Linked DNA regions of Homo sapiens. The protein of the gene in region 1 purifies or fractionates together with the protein of each later gene. This does not show direct contact. Each region holds a gene or a part of one and is shown on either strand. Other genes may lie near its edges.

Region 1 (2,352 bases):
GAGACCCAGAGAGATGAATAGTTTGTTCAGAGCCATTCTGCCAGTAAAAATCAGACAACTTAGGTATGATCTCCAAAGCCCACCTACCTGACCACACAGCCAGTTCAGAAGTTTGTCTTTGTACATCTAGATCAGACATTAAGGCACTGGTGCCTGGATCCTGCCCCCAGAAATTTTGCTTTAATGTGTGGTGTGACTGGGCAGCAGTTTTTTCAAAAGTTCCCTTAGGTAATTCTAACTGCAAATCACTGTCTTGATTCTTCTTACAGGGTAGGTCGTGGACTGGAAGCATATTAGAAATGAAAAATCCCAGATCCAAACCAGAGTCAGAATCCATTTAGGAAGATTCGCAGGTGATTCACATGCACATTAAAGTTTGAGAAACACTTTGTAGATGAGACCATCTCATAACTTGAATGCAATTGAACTCCCCTCTGTCCTACCCTGACCGCTAAATTCTGTTTTCTGTTGAAGTGCTACAATATGGGTATTTCCTCAACTTAGACTTGTACAGATAGGTCATAGTAAGACGCATACTGGCTTCTCTCCATATCTACCCAAAAGGTTGTTTTAGTGTGTTCTTTCATTGTATTCCTGCTCCCTCTCCCAAACTCCAGACAATTGAGCTGGTTGGTTGATTTAGGCACCTTTAAAGTGGCACTTGGAGGTGTTCAACCCAGTTCTTCCCACTGAGTTACCATTCTCTCTTGTTGGAACACTCTGCTTCTATATTACTACTACTCATATTTTTTTTTTTGAGACAGAATCTCACTCTGTTGCCCAGACTGGGGTGCAAAGGTGCAATCTTGACTCACTGCAAGCTCCATGTCCCTAGTTCAAGTGATTCTCCTGCCTCAGCCTCCCAAGGAGCTGGAACTACAAGTGCACGCCACCACGCCTGGCTAATTTTTTTATTTTTAGTAGAGATGGGGTTTCACCATGTTGGCCAGGCTGGTCTCAAATCCTGACCCCAAGTGATCCACTCACCTTGGCCTCCCAAAGTGCTGGGGTTACCAGCATGAGCCACCACGCCCAGCCTATACTACTCATATTTTTAATTAATTGCTACACACTTGTTGTATACTCTCTCTACCCCCATTAACTTTTTTTTTAATTTTAATTTTTTTGTTTTTGTTTTTGTTTTTTTTTTGAGACTGAGTCTCACTCTGTAACCCAGGCTGGAGTGCAGTGGCACAATCTCAGCTCACTGCAACCTCCTCCTCCTGGGTTCAAGAGATTGTCCTGCCTCAGCCTCCTGAATAGCTGGGATTACAAGCACCTACCACTATACCCGGCTAATTTTTGTATTTGTAGCAGAGACAGAGTTTCACCATGTTGGCCAGGCTGGTCTTGAACTCCTGACCTCAAGCAGTCAGCCCACATTGACCTCCCAAGGTGCTGGGATTACAGGCATAATCCACTGCACCCGGCCTATTTTTATTTTTTTTAAGACAGAGTCTCGCTCTGTCACCCAGGCTGGAGGGCAGTGGTGCAATCTCGGCTCACTGCAACCTCCACTCCCGGGTTCAAGCGATTCTCTTGCCTCAGCCTCCCTAGCAGCTGGGACTACAGATGTGCATCACCACGCCCAGCTAATTTTTACATTTTTAGTAGAGATGGGGTTTCACCATGTTGGCCAGGTTGGTCTTCAACTCCTGGCCTCAAGTGATCCACCACCTCAGCCTCCCAAAGTGCTGGGATTACAGGTGTGAGCCACCAGGCCCAGCCTACCCTCATTAACTTTAAAATTTCCCCCTCTCTTTGTCTGTTGGATTTTCTGTTATAATTGATGGTAGTTTTTCACTGCTTTGCATTGGTAGTGCACAGACTCAGCGTATGAGCAGGGCTTTTATGATGGGACTTTTTTGTGTCGAGGTAGAGAATTAGGCTGGCAAACCACGAGTTGGAATGGTGCTTCTTAAGAGTGTAGGCAGTAGACCAGCATCACCTGGAAACTTGGTAGAAATGCAAGTTGGTGGGCCCCACCCCAGACCTGAATCAGAATCTCTGGAGGGTGGGCCCAGGAATTGATTTAACAAACTCTTCCAGGGATTCTTAGAACTCTCCACTTTTAAGAGGTGGGTCTTGCTGTGTTGCCCAGGCAACAGCCTTGAACTCCTGGCCTCAAGTGATCCTCCTACCTCAGCCTCCCTAGTGGCTAGGATTACAGGCATGCTGTTTCAATTTTTAGTCTGTTCATTACAAACAGAATCAAGAAAGTCACCAGAGACACAGGATAGTTCTGAATAGCTGGTTTTTAAGGCAAAATTTACCTACTTTTCTCTTTGAAAAGTACATTAATTCAAAGAACTATGGTTTGCAGAAGGTCATACAGCTTGATGCAAAGGCAAA
Region 2 (3,653 bases), on another chromosome or scaffold:
AAGCTCTGTCCATCAAACCTAGCTCCTCCCACCAGTCCAGGCTCCTCCCCTCAAGCTCTGTTCATTAAGCCTAGCTCTTCCCCCCAGCCCTGGCTCCTCCCCTCAAGCTCTTCCCATCAAGCCTGGCCCCTCCCATCAAACCCAGCTCCCCAAAAAGGCGCTACTCTGGCCCTTGAGGATTTGTGTACACAGCCCACCCTATCCTAACGCCTAGCATCTGACCTCAAAGTCCCACCCATCGTGCGTGGCTTTTCCGGGACCCCATTTCTTGTTCCTTCCCTTAAGGCCCCACCCATGAACCACTGGCCCCGCCCCCTCAAGCCCCACCCCCCCCGTCAAGTCCCTCCCATCTGCAGGTTCTTCCTTTTCCCAGGCCCTTGGGGGCCGAGGTGCGCCTCCTGCAGCTCTCAGGTCTCACCCTCTAGCGCTTGCCCCCACAGGGAGCCCACCTAGCTGTCATTGATGCCCTCATGGCTGCCTTTGCCTTCGAGTGGACAAAGACCCTGCCAGGTCCCTTGGCCCTGACCAGCTTGGAGCACAAGCTGCTTTTCTGGGTGGACACGGTAGGTGGGGTTGGGCCTGGGGTGGGTTCGGGGACCAGCATCGTCCAGTGGCCAGACCACTGACCCCCTCCCTGCCCTCCAGACCGTCCGGCGGCTGCAGGAGAAGACCGAGCAGGAAGCGGCCCAGCGAGCCTCTCCAGCAGCCCCTGCAGACGGGGCGGCCCCGGCGCAGCCCTCGGTGAGGCCAGGGCATAGAACCGTCAGAAGGATGGGGGACCGGAGATCTGGGAGGGCAGGGCTGTGCTTCCTGGACACTCCTGAAGTGGGGAGGGGGCTAGAGGTGACACACTCTCTCTTTCTTCCCCCCTCTCTCAATCTCTCTGTGCCCTGCCCGTCCCCTGTGCCGGTACCCGCTGCCCTCCTCTCTGCCTCTCTGGCCTCAGTGCCCTACGCGCTGGTACTGGAAGCTGGTTCCTGTAAGTGGGGCTGTCTGTCCGCCCCGTCTGCCTGCCCTGCTTGTAGCTCTGTCTGTCTGTATGTCTGTTTCTGCCTGCCTGTCTGCGCGCCCTCTCATACCTCCCCAAGCTGTGAGCAAAGGAGGTTGGACCCCAGTCCTGGGAGACAGGGAGAACCCCTCTGTGAACCAAGAGAAGGGTAGAATCTCGGCCATTAACTGAGAGGGCAGACCCCTCCCCCAGCGAACTGATGGGTGGGGACGAACTTCCCCTCCCGTTATTCAGAAGGGCAAGCCCTCCCCGTTCCCATTAATGAAGAGGGTGGGACCCCCTGAACCTGTCCCCCTTAGCCGAGGTGGGGAGACCACATAAATTTCTGAAGGGGGGACCTGCAGCCCATCACAAACGTGGATCCTGACCCTAGCAGGCAGGGCACCCTCTGGCCAAGGGGAAGACCCTCCAATGCAGAAGAAGATAGAATAACTTTCCTAACTGAGACCCCCAGCTTCCCTAGAGAAAAATCCCAGCTTTGAAAAGGAGGAGGAGGCCCATCCCTGAAGCTGGAAGTTGAAATTTCTCTCTTCCCTGAATGAGCTGTGTGACCTTGCAGAAGTATCTAAACCTCTCTGTGCTTCATATAAATTACTCCCATAGTAGATAAACAAGGAGGAAGTGGGGGAGGTTTTGGGCTGGCTGGCGTCCCCACCTTTGCTCACTCCTTCCCCCACCCTGGGGCCTGGGTTGGGAGGTTCCCTTCCTGCCTACCCGCTTCCTCTGCATCCTCTCCCCAAGCTGGGGGCCTGGGTCTTTTGTGGGAGGAGGATTCCCCGCATAAGAGGGGGTTCCTACTCTGTGGGGTCCCTTGGGGCTGGGAGGAGCTGGGGTTCGCGAAGCCGGCCAGAGCAGTCAGGGAGCTGGACGGCCGGGGCTCAGGACCAGGGTCAGGGCTACCCCCTCCCCCCCAAGGTGGGCTTGGGGGCCCAGCAGGTCAGCACCCCTCCCCCTTGCTGATGGCTGCTCCTCTCCCCCCAGCACGCAATTGCCTTCTGTTTGAAGGAGTCGGGGAGCAAACCCCCCATGGTAATGTATCCCCCGCCCCGGGGTCCCAGGAGTCCCTGTCCCCAGCCCCCGCTGCTGGCCTGGCTGCTCGAAGACATCTCCTCTGCCTCTTGCTGCTGCCCCTCCCCTGCTCCAGGCTGGCCCCCCAACTCTGTCTCTGGGACCCCCAGCTTCCCGCCCCCTCATGGCGGAAACCCCAGGCCTCCCTGCCCAGCCTGCATGACCGCTGACCCTGGGGGCCAGCCTGGCCACTCACCTGACCTGGCTCCCATCTGCAGATCCGATACCGCAAGGACCGTGTGGTGGCGCGACGTGCCCCCTGCTTCCCGACGGTGACCAGCCTCCAGGACCTGGCCAGTGGGGCCGCGCTGGCCGCCACCATCCACTGCTATTGTCCCCAGCTGCTTCGACTTGAGGGTGAGTAAATGGATGTGGAACAGATCTTGTGCCGGGGAGCTGGGCATCCTAAGTCCCAGCCCCTAGACCCTCCATCCCCAGGTCCGCGAGACCAGCAACGATGCAGTGGTCATGAGGGCAGCTTCCGGAACTGGCAGGCCTGAGTTTGTGTCTCTCTCTTCCCCAATGAGCTTTGTGACCTCACACAAGTATATAAACCTCTCTGTGCTTCCAGGAGTTCATTCCTGCAGCAGATGAAACGTATGGAGTGTGGACTGTGTGCCAGACCTTGTTTTAGGCACTGGGGATCCAGCCAGAATAGAGACACACTCCCCACTTCACAGACGGCTCTAGCTGGGAGAGAAAGATACTAAGTTTATCCAAAAGTACTTTTTTTTTTTTTTTTTTGAGACGGGAGTCTTGCTCTGTTGCCCAGGCTGGAGTGTAATGGCATGATCTCGGCTCACTGCAACCTCCACCTCCCAGGTTCAAGCCATTCTCCTGCCTCAGCCTCCTGAGTAGCTGGGACTACAGCCACACGCCACCACGCCTGGCTAATTTTTGTATTTTTAGTAGAGACGGGTTTCACCGTGTTGGCCAGGCTGGTGTCGAATTCCTGACCTCAAGTGATCTGCCTACCTTGGCCTCCCTAAGTGCTGGGATTGCAAGTGTGAACCACTGCACCCGGCCCAGAAGTACTTTTTGCATACTGGGTAGTCCTAAAGGCAATGGGTGGTCAGAAAAAGCTTTTTTTAAAAAAACTCTTTTTTCTTTTTTATTAAAAAAAAAATTATAGGGCTGGGTGTGGTGGCTCACGCCTGTAATCCCAGCAGTTTGGGAGGCCGAGGCGGGTGGATCACGAGGTCACGAGTTCAAGACCAGCCTGGCCAGGATGGTGAAACCGTCTCTACTAAAAATACAGAAATTAGCCGGGTGCGGTGGCGGGCGCCTGTAATCCCAGCTACACAGGAGGCTGAGGCAGGAGAATCGCTTGAACCCAGGAAGTGGAGGTTGCAGTGAGTCAAGACCATGCCATTGCACTCTAGCCTGGGCAACAGAGCGAGACTCCATCTCAAAAAAAAAAAAAAAAAAGTATAAAATAGAGATGGGGTCTTGCTATGTTGCCCAAGCTGGTCTTGAATCCCTGGGCTCAAACATCCTCCCACCTCAGCCTCCCCAAGTGCTAAGATTACAGGTGTGAGCCACCACACCTGGCCCGGAAAAGCTTTTTGAGCTGAGG

What was found.
Region 2: the proteins of NCF2 (region 1) and CAMSAP3 purify together in Homo sapiens (affinity purification with mass spectrometry; 2 studies listed by BioGRID and IntAct, with this or other methods). This does not show direct contact.

What each region holds. Positions count from the first base shown.
Region 1 is NC_000001.11:183,557,136-183,559,487, forward strand, and holds part of NCF2 (neutrophil cytosol factor 2), read right to left. Parts: intron 1-2,352. UniProt on the Homo sapiens protein: Subunit of the phagocyte NADPH oxidase complex that mediates the transfer of electrons from cytosolic NADPH to O2 to produce the superoxide anion (O2(-)).
Region 2 is NC_000019.10:7,605,831-7,609,483, forward strand, and holds part of CAMSAP3 (calmodulin-regulated spectrin-associated protein 3), read left to right. Parts: intron 1-440; coding exon 441-563; intron 564-645; coding exon 646-741; intron 742-946; coding exon of another isoform or gene 947-979; intron 980-1,990; coding exon of another isoform or gene 1,991-2,038; intron 2,039-2,295; coding exon 2,296-2,434; intron 2,435-3,653. UniProt on the Homo sapiens protein: Key microtubule-organizing protein that specifically binds the minus-end of non-centrosomal microtubules and regulates their dynamics and organization.